Linked DNA regions of Homo sapiens. The protein of the gene in region 1 purifies or fractionates together with the protein of each later gene. This does not show direct contact. Each region holds a gene or a part of one and is shown in the gene's direction. Other genes may lie near its edges.

Region 1 (3,648 bases):
CAGCCTTCTGGAGACGCCAGCACCCTCGCCCTCCAGGTGCGTCCCATGCCCTGGGGGTACAGTGTACCCATGCTGGTGAGTTAGAGATGACATGAGCTTTACCCTGTGTGATGGGTTGGGTGTCTTAGGAAATGTTGGCCAAGTGCCCCTGCAGGACTCCTGACCTCTACCTCCCGGAATGGGCCTGTCCACAGGTAGCTCTAAAGAGGGTCTTAGCCATCAGGCCCATTCCTGTACCTCCTAAGCATCATTTCCTCCCGGGCTTCTTTCTTGCTCTCACTGGTCCGTTCTCTCACCTTCTTTCCAATCTTCAAATAACCAAGCTCCTCCTTCCTCAGGCCTTTGCACCTGCTGTGTTCCCTGCCTGGAATGCTTTTCTTACAGATCTTTGCTTGGCTGACTTCTTCATTCATGTCTTGGCTCAAATGTCACTGGCTCAGGCTGGCCTTCGTCGACCCATTCTGACCCTCTCCCAGCCCAGCAGTTCTCTGCAGTTAGCCAGCTTTGGTATCTTCATGGCGCCCAACACAACCAGAAAACCTGTATTGTGTACTTTTTGTCTCCACTCCCCACCCCCAAATGTCAGACCTTGTTAGTCACTCTTCTGCATCCCCAGCAACTGGCACAGTGCCTGGCATGAAGTGGGCACCCAGTAAACATTTCTTGGCCGAATGAACATGCAGCACACCTGTAGCAATACATGTGCCCCGTGCATCAGTGGAAAGAGTGTGGCACTGGAGATTTGCATATTTTCAAATTCCAGCTCAGGCCCTTGCCTGTTCGCCTTTCTGAGCCTCATTTTTTTCTTCTGTGAAATGGCCATGCTAGTGCCTGCCAGGCAGGGTGATGTCAGAGTTGGAGACGGCGTGTGGAAAGCCCATGAGGCACAGTGAGTGGGCAAGAAAGGCTGGTGTTTGTTATTATATGGACAAGAAGGAAGGCGGGTTAAAAATCAGCTTGGAATCTTAATGTCAGTGGCCCCTGGAGAACCAGCCAGCCTCTTGTCTGTCAATTCCGCAGATATTCACTGTGCACAGCACCTCACTGCGAGAGGCGCTGTTCGAGCTGGGGGTTCCCCAGGAATAAAGTGAAGCTTCTGCCCTCATGCACCTCAGGTCCTTGGTGGAGGGGGAGAGCAGACAATGAGCAAGAAGAATCAGTGAAATGTAGTCTATTCAATCCTGAGAAGCCTTACGAAGTAAAAAATAAAGCCGGGAAGGGGCTTAGGCTGGATGAGGGTGTGGATTGCAATTTTACTGGGGGAGGGACACAAGTGGGGATGGGGGTGACCTGGTTCCCTGTTGGGCAGTGAGAAGCCAGCAGGGGAATGCAGCTGACCCCAACACCCTGGCTCCAAAGAGGGGATCCGGAAGAAGACCTGGACGGTTAGGCCAGGTGTTTATACCTGCTGTGCCCACTGATTTTGTACTTCTTCTTCCCCCTAGAAACCTCCTCCAGCTCGCTTAGGATGGGGGCCTATGTCTTCATCGGCGTGGGGGCAGTCACTATGCTCATGGGCTTCCTGGGCTGCATCGGCGCCGTCAACGAGGTCCGCTGCCTGCTGGGGCTGGTGAGTACGGATCCCTCCGCAGCTGCCTGCCCATTTCCTCTCATCCAGCCGAGTGCAGCCTGACCGCGGCGCTGGCCGTAACATCGGGTGGAGAGCATCTCTCGGGGCACGCAGGCTGGGTGCACCTGGTCGGGGACCCTCAGCTGACTTTGTGCCTGCTCTGTGTCCCCAGTACTTTGCTTTCCTGCTCCTGATCCTCATTGCCCAGGTGACGGCCGGGGCCCTCTTCTACTTCAACATGGGCAAGGTAAGCCCCTCTCTCCCTCCCTCTTCACTGGGCTGGACCAACCATGGGGGTGATTGACTGAGTGTGGGGGATGGACAAGGAACCCCCCCAGTTGTCACAGACAGATCCAGTAGGTGTCAGGGACGGCCTCCTGGACACTATTCCTTGTGATCAAATGGGGGAGCGTTAGAAGAGAAGGCGGCAGGTGTGGGCAGTCCCCGCTGGGCCTGGATCTTAGCCTGACCCCCCTGCTTTCTAGCTGTGTGGCCTTGGGCAAGCTGCTTGCCTCTATGTGCCTGTTCCACCATCTGTAAAATGGAAACAATAAGAAAACTGAACTCTCAGAGTGGTTGCAAAGATTATTCGAGATTATCTGAGTGAAACACATAGCGCATGGCACCATAAGTACTCAATAAATGTTATTCTTGTTATTATTAAGATACTTTAGCAACTATTAAATCCATGCCACTCACCCACAAATGAGGTTTAGAAGGAGACCGTTAATAAAAACATCAGTCTTGTGTCCGAGGGGAGATGTTCAGCTTTCAGAAACAGAAAATCAGACTTACAGCGGCTTAAAGTTGAAGGACATCTGTGGTTGACTTGACCGGAAGTCTGGTTTGGAAGCTCAGAGGCCCTGGTTCTGGCTGTTGAGCATCCTCGCTGGGATGGCTTTCCTGCATTATGACACTTACCTCGTGGTTCCAAGATGGCTGCCACAGCACCAGGCACGATGTCTGTGCCGCTGTGGCCTGAAGATGGGGAAGTGGGCAGTGCCAGACATGGCCATCCCTTTTATCAGAAAAGGCGCAGTGGCTCATGACTGTAATCCCAATACTTAGGGAGGCAGAGGTGGGAGGATTGCTCTGAGACTAGCCTGGGCAACATGGTGAGACCCCATTTCTACAAACAAATTTTTAAAAATGCTAGCCATGGTGGTGTTCACCTGTGGTCCCAGCTACTCAGGAGGCTGAGGCAGGAGGATCCTTGAGGCCAGGAGGTTGAGGCTACAGGGAGCCATGAAACAGAGCTTGGGGCAACAGAGTGAGACCCTGTCTCAAAAAAAAAAAAAAAAAAAAGTCCTCCAACAGACTTCCCCAGACTGGGTTACAAAGCCACCCCTGGTTGCAAAAGAGGCTGAGAATGTGAGTATCCAACTTTCAGACTCTAAAGACAGAGGCACAAGAGAGAAAGGAGCCAAGAATGGCTGTTGGGTGAGCCAGTTAATTGTGAGTCACAGTTATCACGTAAGAAGCACCTACTGTGTGCACGTGGGATCTTCTAGAAACTTTCCATACAGCGTCTTGTCCTCACAATGGCTCTGCAGGGTTTTATGTTGACAGATGGAGAAGCAGATGCTCTGAGATGAAGAGCAATAACAACATAGATAACAGTGACTCTAACACCCACCATCCCTCCAGTTGAGTCCATGCACAGCATATACCAAGTACAGTGTTGACCACGTTACACTCCTCCTCTCGCAGATCCTCACTAGGCCCTCTCAAGGTCGTGGGAGAATCCCCGTCCTGCAGATGAAGGAGTAAGGACAGCCTAGGCTCCCTGACTCCGAGTCCTGAGTTCACCCGTCCCCAGACCCTGCTGCACATGGCCTGTGGCCTAGCAGACCCTTAGGGTCCCTGCTTCCAGTGCCACCAGTTCTTGTCCACCAGGGAGGGTGGCAGAGCCGGCAGCCAGATAGGCTCCTGCCCTTCACCACTTGAAGGTCAAGTTGCCTGAGATCCCTCTTGGAAGGAAACTGAGAAAACACTATACCAACATCAACATCAACAAATAACATTTAATAGAACTTAGAACTTAATGGAACTTCACAAGACAAGATACTCTTGGTAGC
Region 2 (3,648 bases), on another chromosome or scaffold:
ATAGGCATAGTCCCTGGTCAATCCCAGCTGGATATCTGGGTGAGGCTGTTTTTCCCCCAGTCTCTCTGAAGCATGGAAAGAAGGAGGGAGTCATCATTGTTCCAGTTCCTTCTGGACAGTTCCTTACTTTCCATTTTTCTATCCCTTGTACACCCTGTACCCCCCAATCCAGAGAGCTATAAACAGGACATTGGGGGTTAAATATGAATGAATCTTTGAGAAAGTGGGTGAGCTGTAAAGGGTATGCAAGTTAAATATTTTGCTTGAAGTTGAAAAAGCAAGGCCGTGACCAGGGCTGGCCTGCTTGCTGTTCCTGAGCCAGGCTCTGCCCTGGGCTCATAGTACTAAGGGGTGCCCCAGAAGAGACCACCTGAACACATGGACACTGTTCTTATATTAGGAGCCCTCCAACCCCAGAACCTCCAAGTACCTTCTCTAGAAGCAATTTTTGTGTGTGACACTGTCTTTCTGCAAGTGGTTCACTGAGTACAGCATCAGGAAATGAGGCTGATTGAAGGCCAAAATAGAATGAAGTGGGTGTGGGGGAGTAGGAGATGGGGGTGTAAGGTGGACAGTGGGGTGGAGGTGAGGTTGGTAGAATTGCCCAGTTACTCAACAAAAGCATTCTGAGAATGAGGCTCTTACACAGAGACTGTGAAATGCCTTCCTTGGGACCCACCCTAGCTTCTACTTCCTACCGAGGTTCCCTCTTTCTGGTGGTTCTGCCCAATCTTCCTGCTCTTCCTTCTGCCTCTTAGGAGGCACTGAGCTAAGGGGCCTTCCCAGATCTCTGACTTCAGGTGGAATCAAAGCATATATACTCCTTTCAAGCACTATGCTCTTCTGATTTTCTTCCCAAAGAGTCAGACTTTAACAGAGTGCTTTTCTCCTACAGTCACTTTATCCTCCAAGCCACAAGCACTGGCCACACCAAACAAGGAGGAGCACGGGAAAAGAAAGAAGAAAGGCAAGGGGCTAGGGAAGAAGAGGGACCCATGTCTTCGGAAATACAAGGACTTCTGCATCCATGGAGAATGCAAATATGTGAAGGAGCTCCGGGCTCCCTCCTGCATGTAAGTGCCCCTTCCCCAGGGCTGAATCTCATCAGCACACTTTGTCAGCCACGTGGCTGTTCCTCGTTGTCACTGTTCCTTGAATTCATAATTTCACCCAGTTTCTTCTCAACCTCTGGGCGGAAGTTGGGAGGAGGGGAAATATATTTTTAGTCAGCGGAAGCCCCCTCCCCCCTATAGGATGCAATTTCCTGTGGTATGGTTTTGTGACGTGCTTTAATCCTTGGGGACATTTCCTGCTTGCCCAGAAATGAGCATGTGGCTAGGACAGCTGGCACCTGAAGGCAGGCCCTTAATTCTTGCCTGATGCCCTACTCTGGGAGGGAGAAGCCAGTAGGAAACATGGCAGAGTGGGCTTCCAGGGCAGAGTAGAGCTCCTGTGGGAAGGTAGGAAGTGCATTTGGATGCATGATGTATAGGTATGTGTGTATTTGGGTTTATGTGCATGTAAGTGTGCAAATGTGGATTGACTGTGAGGCATGGCAGGACTGTACAGAGAGGGATCATCATGGCGGCAGGTTGAGGCCTCTCTTTCTTCTTCCTTATCCCAGCAAGGACGAGGAGGTGGGAGACATGGAGAGTACTGGCCTTTGGCCACGTTGTGAGAGAACAATTCCTTTGTGCAGGGTTCACAGGAAATGGAACCTGACCCATTAGGCATCAGCCCCCGGTCAGGCAACATCACCCCTTCCCTGGGTAGGTGTGTGGGTGGAGGGGCTGTGGGTTCCTTAGCCTCTCTCCTAAGCCAAACCCAGCAAACGGCTGCCTTGGCAACCCCTCAGGGATGACAGCACTGCCATGCTCTCTGGCAGGCATAATGTTGCCACTGTGCCTGAGGCCAACACCCTGCGTCAGGCTGCAAACATCCATTCCCTTCCCTGTGGGGAGGGAGGCTCTGGGGGCCTTAGTGGGAGACTCTGGACAGGGCCAAGAGACTGTTGTATGCACACTGCCTCCAGCCTGTCAAGAAGGCGGCGTGCCTGGCATCCCTTCTACTGGTGATTGGTGCAGATCCCTTAGCTTTTTAAAGCTTCCTTGTTTTGTCTGATCACACACAGCAGAGCTGCCCTGTATTTGGCAGTTGGCAGACAGACCCATCACTCCCCACCATGTCCACAGTCACTTGTGCATCCTTTCCTATAACATCCTTGTCAGGAGCTTGGTATTAGAGGGAGTTGTTTAAGAGTGGCATAGAAAGCCCCCATATTATCCTTCCCAAGGTCTTGGGACAGGGTGGGAAATGTTCATCTTAAATTTGTAAAATGGCATCATTAGTACAGGGTGAAGAAGGTGACTCAAGTAGTCAAGGTGGATTGAGGTCAGGAATCTGTCTATACCAGATTGGTCCTGGGCATTTTGGTGGATGGATGTGGGGCTTGCACTGTGTGGTTGAGAGGCCTTATAAGGTTGCCCTCCTGGAGAGCTGGACTCGGATGACCACCTAAACCCAGAGAACCTGATATGGGTGCCCAGGCCACCTTCCCAGTGGTCCCTAGGGATAGTGATAACTATAATGATGTCATATCTCCTTTGTCCCAGAGTTTCAGTGTTTATATATAATATGAGTTGAGCCCAAGTATGTTGAGCCCCTATTTGGTGGCAGACACTACTTTAGGAGCTGGAGAGATATAGTTTCCTGGGATTTTTCAAAAGCCCTCTGCTGAGTAGGCAGGACTTGGTACCTCTACTTGAAAGGTGATGAAACTGGAGCCAGAAAATAGGAAGTAATTTGCCTGAGGTCAATAGCTAAATAAGTAGTTGGAAATAAGACAGAGTCTCAGTACCTGACTCCTAGTCCAACATGCTTTTCATGCCCTCAAGCTGTACTGGGTGTTGGCTTTCATCTTTCTTTCCTGTATCTGTCCTTATAGAGTTGGAGCAGCATTTTATAGAGGGCAGAGGGCAGCTGTTGTCCTAGAGGTCTCTTATTCTTTTACTAGTCTAACAGCACAGCAATCTGATTTGAAAACTTTACATTAACTTCTTGGGCAGAATTTTCTTTTTCTTTGTTCTTTTCTTTCTTTCTTTCTTTTTTTTTTTTTTTTTTTTTTTGAGACAGAGTCTCACTCTGTCTCCCATGCTGGGGTGCAGTGGTGTGATCTCAGCTCACTGCAACCTCTGCCTCCTGGGTTCAAGCAATTCTCCTGCCTCAGCCTCCTAAGTGGCTGGGACTACAGGCACCTGCCACCATGCCGAATTAATAATTTTTATATTTTTAGTAGAGACGTAGTTTTGCCGTGTTGGCCAGGCTGGTCTTGAACTCTTGACCTCAGGTGATCCGCCTGCCTCAGCCTCCCAAAGTGCTGGGATTACAGGCATGAGCCACCATATCTAGCCTTTTTTTTTTTTGAGATGGAATCTCGCTCTGTCACCCAGGCTGGAGTGCAGTGACACAATCTCGGCTCTCTGCAGCCTCCGCCTCCCAGATTAAAGTGATTTTCCTGCTTCAGCCTCCTGAGCAGCTGGTATTACAGGCACATGCCCCCACATCTGGCTAATTTTTAAATTTTTGTGGAGATGGGGTTTCACCATGTTGGCCAGGCTGGTCTTGAACTCCTAACCTCAAGTAATCAGC
Region 3 (3,648 bases), on another chromosome or scaffold:
CCTTTGCTAGGACACAGCCTTGGTGTTCGGTTCAGTTAAAGAAGCAATGGGCTGAGCGTGGTGGCTCACGCTTGTCATCCCAACACTCTGGGAGGCTGAGGCAGGCGGATCACTTGAGGTCACCCAGCTACTTGGGAGGCTAAAGTAGGAGAATCGCTTGAACCCAGGAGGCAGAGGTTGCAGTGAGCTGAGATTGTGACACTGTACTCCAGCCTGGGTGACAAGAGCAAAACTGTCTCAAAAAAAAAAAAAAAATCAGCAGCAATGGTCCAGCCTGGGCAGCATAGCAAGAAGCCATGTCTAAATAATTAATAAAAATGAAAAGTGATTTTTTAAAAAAAAGTTTTTAAAAAAAACTCACTCTCAACTGGCTTTTAAGCTGAGATATGAAAGATGAGATTCAAACAGCAATGTGAGAAAGGTGGAATGAGGGCAGAGAGAAGCACAGGTGCAAGCCCAGGGGCGGGGAAAGGGCTCGGCATGCCAGGAAAATGGAAAAAGTTCAGTGTGACCGAAGCGCAGTGAGGAAGGGAGAGAGAAGGTTGGCAGGGAGGTAAGGGTCTTCCAGGCCCTCAGAAAGAGTTTGGATTTCAGTGTGAAGATCGATGAGAAATCATGAAGGAGTTTTTTGTTGTTGTTGTTTTGAGACAGGGACTCACTCTGTTGCCCAGACTGGAGTGCAGTAGTGCGATCACGGCTCACTGCAGCCTCAAACTCCTGGGCTCAAGCAGTCCTCCCACCTTGACCTCCTGAGTAGCTGGGACTACAGATACACACCACCACACCTGGCTAATTTTTAAATTTTTTGTAGAGACAAGAGTTTCTTAGCCAGGCGTGGTGGCGGGCGCCTGTAGTCCCAGCTACTCGGGAGGCTGAGGCAGGAGAATGGCGTGAATCCTGGAGGTGGAGTTCACAGTGAGCCAAGATTGTGCCACCGCCCTCCAGCCTGGGCGACAGAGTGAGACTCCGTCTCAAAAAAAAAAAAAAAAAAAAAAGAGTTTCTACTATATTGCCTAAGCAGGTCTTGAACTCCTGGGCTCAAGCAATCTTCCTGCTTCAGCCTCACATAGTGCTGGGATTACAGGCATGAGCCACTACGCCCGGCCGAGACAGAGTTTCTACTATATTGCCCAGCCTGATCTTTAACTCCTGGGCTCAAGCAAGTCTTCTGCCTCAGCCTCACAAAGTGTTGGGATTACAGGCGTGAGCCACTGTGCCCAGCCCATGAAGAGGTTTTTTGTTTTGTTTTGTTTTGTTTTTTGAGACAGTCTTGCTCTGTCACCAGGCTGGAGTGCAGTGGTGTGATCTTGGCTCACTGCAACCTCAGCCTCCTCGGTTCAAGCGATTCTCCTGCCTCAGCCTCCCAAGTAGCTAGTAGTACAGGCGCCTGCCACCACACCCAGATAAATTTTTTGTATTTTTAGTAGAGACGGGGTTTCACCATATTGGCCAGGCTGGTCTTGAACTCCTAACCTCAGGTAATCTGCCCGCCTTGGCCTCCCAAAGTGCTAGGATTACAGGTGTGAGCCACTGTGCCTGGCTTTTTTTTTTTTCAAGACAGAGTTTCACTGTGTCAGCCAGGCTGGAGAGCAGTGGTGCGATCTTGGCTCACTGCAACCTCCAGTTGTTTTTGAGCCTCCCAGCCTCGAGCAATTCTCCTGCCTCAGCCTCCCAAGTAGCTGGGATTACAGGCATGTCCCACCATGCCTAGCTAATTTTTGTACTTTTAGTAGAGATAGGGTTTCACCATGCTGGTCAGGCTGGTCTCAAACTCCTGACCTCAGGTAATCTGCTTGCCTTGGCCTCCCAAAGTGCTGGGATTACAGGCATGAGCCACCACGCACAGCCAGTGAAGAGTTCTTAAGGAGAAGCTATATAAGCCAGGCACGGTGGTGCATACCAGTAGTCCCAGCTACTTGGGATGCTGAGGCAGGAGGATCTCTTCAGCCTAGGAGTTTGAGACTGTAGTGAGCTATGATCACACCACTGCACTCCAGCCTGGGCAACACAGCAAGACCCTGTCTCAAAAAAAAAAAAAAGAAAAAGGGTGTATTTCAAAGGCAGGAGTATCATGATTTGGTGATGTGTTGGAGATGAGATGGAGTATAGAGAAGACTCCAGGTGGATTTGGTTTCTTAGCATGGTTCATTAGGTGAGTGGGGGTGCCATTCATTGAAGTGAGAAGCCTGAGTCAGAGCAGAAACCAAGAGCTGAGTCTTGGACACATGGAGATGAGTAATTGGATATTCAAATCTGGAGGCTGGGCACAGTGGCTCACACCTGTCATTGTCCCAACACATTGGGAGGCCGAGGCGGGTGGATCACCTGAGTTCGAGACCAGGCTGGCCAACATGGTGAAACCCCATCTCTACTAAAAATACAAAAATTAGCTGGGCATGGTGGTGCACCTATAATCCCAGCTACTCGGGAGGCTGAGGCAGGAGAATCGCTTGAACCCAGGAGGCAGAGGCTGTGGTGAGCTGAGATTGCACTACCGCACTCCAGCCTCGGTGACAGAGAGAGACTCCATCTCAAAAAAAAAAAAAAAAAAAAAAAAATTAGCCAGGTGTGATGGTGTGTGCCTATAGTCCCCACTATCCAGGAGGCTAAGCCCGGAGGGTTGCTTGAGCTTGGGTGGTTGAGGCTGCAGTGAGCTGTGATTGCGCCACTGCACTCCAACCTGGGCAACAGAGCAAGACCTTGTTTCAACAACAAAAAACAAACAAATCTGGGACTCCCAGGGTAAAAGCCAACTCCGCATTAAGCCACTTCCTGGGTCTGCCTGACCCTCACATGCATGCCTTCTACCTTACCCAGAAGTAAATACCTCACTTCTTCCCCGTCCTGCCATGAATTTTTTTCACTGCATTTACTGCTGTTGGGTCTCACCTGTTCTCTGCTTTGTTCCCCAGGCACAAGCAAACAGGACCTGACTTCCTTCAACATGGAGCTGTCCTCCAGCGGCATCAGTGCTGACCTCAGCAGGGTGCGTGCTGGGCTGGAGCAATGGGCTGCAGGGAGTGCAGTTGGCTCTGGGGGGTGGGTCGGTGGGTAGCTGACCCGCTCATCTCCTTCCCTGGGCAGGGCCATGCAGTCGTGGGGGCAGTAGGAGCCAAGGACTGGGCTGGGGGCTTTCTTGACCTGAAGGCAGACCTGCAGGATGACACATTTATTGGGAATGAACCATTGACACCAGAAGTGAGAGCAGGCTATTTGGGTGAGTACTTCTCTTTTCTGCTGGGATCTTCTGGTTGTTGAGGTCAGATGGTCGCTCAGCCTGGCTTCCAAAACAATAATGAAAGCAGTTAAGCAACCAGCATGAACAAAGTCAGAGTTTAAATATGGCTATAACATTCATAATTTATTGTCTGTATTTTCTGATGCTTTGACATCTTGGGGCCGTGCTAATCCTGAAAAGACTACCTCTCCCAGGGTAGGCAAATTCCTAGAGATAGTAAACAACTTGCCTGTGAATATGCCTTGTAGCTGGTCCTAGTGGCTCATGCCTGTAATCCCAGCAGTTTGGGAGGCTGAGGCAGGTGGATCACCTGAAGTCAAGAGTTCAAGACCAGCATGGCCAACATGGTGAAACCCTGTCTCTACTAAAAATACAAAAGTTAGCCAGGCATGGTGGCGCATGCCTGTAGT

Evidence for each region.
Region 2: the proteins of CD82 (region 1) and HBEGF purify together in Homo sapiens (affinity purification with western blotting, with the first as the bait; one study listed by BioGRID). This does not show direct contact.
Region 3: the proteins of CD82 (region 1) and ITGAL purify together in Homo sapiens (affinity purification with western blotting, with the first as the bait; one study listed by BioGRID). This does not show direct contact.

Annotation. Positions count from the first base shown.
Region 1 is NC_000011.10:44,603,613-44,607,260, forward strand, and holds part of CD82 (CD82 antigen), read left to right. Parts: intron 1-805; exon of another isoform or gene 806-846; coding exon of another isoform or gene 847-889; intron 890-895; exon of another isoform or gene 896-1,118; intron 1,119-1,405; exon of another isoform or gene 1,406-1,445; coding exon 1,446-1,570; exon of another isoform or gene 1,571-1,725; intron 1,726-1,742; coding exon 1,743-1,817; intron 1,818-3,648. UniProt on the Homo sapiens protein: Structural component of specialized membrane microdomains known as tetraspanin-enriched microdomains (TERMs), which act as platforms for receptor clustering and signaling.
Region 2 is NC_000005.10:140,340,060-140,343,707, reverse strand, and holds part of HBEGF (proheparin-binding EGF-like growth factor precursor), read left to right. Parts: intron 1-895; coding exon 896-1,073; intron 1,074-3,648. UniProt on the Homo sapiens protein: Growth factor that mediates its effects via EGFR, ERBB2 and ERBB4. Required for normal cardiac valve formation and normal heart function. Promotes smooth muscle cell proliferation. May be involved in macrophage-mediated cellular proliferation.
Region 3 is NC_000016.10:30,486,170-30,489,817, forward strand, and holds part of ITGAL (integrin alpha-L isoform a precursor), read left to right. Parts: intron 1-2,725; exon of another isoform or gene 2,726-2,797; coding exon of another isoform or gene 2,798-2,819; intron 2,820-2,912; coding exon 2,913-2,986; intron 2,987-3,084; coding exon 3,085-3,217; intron 3,218-3,648.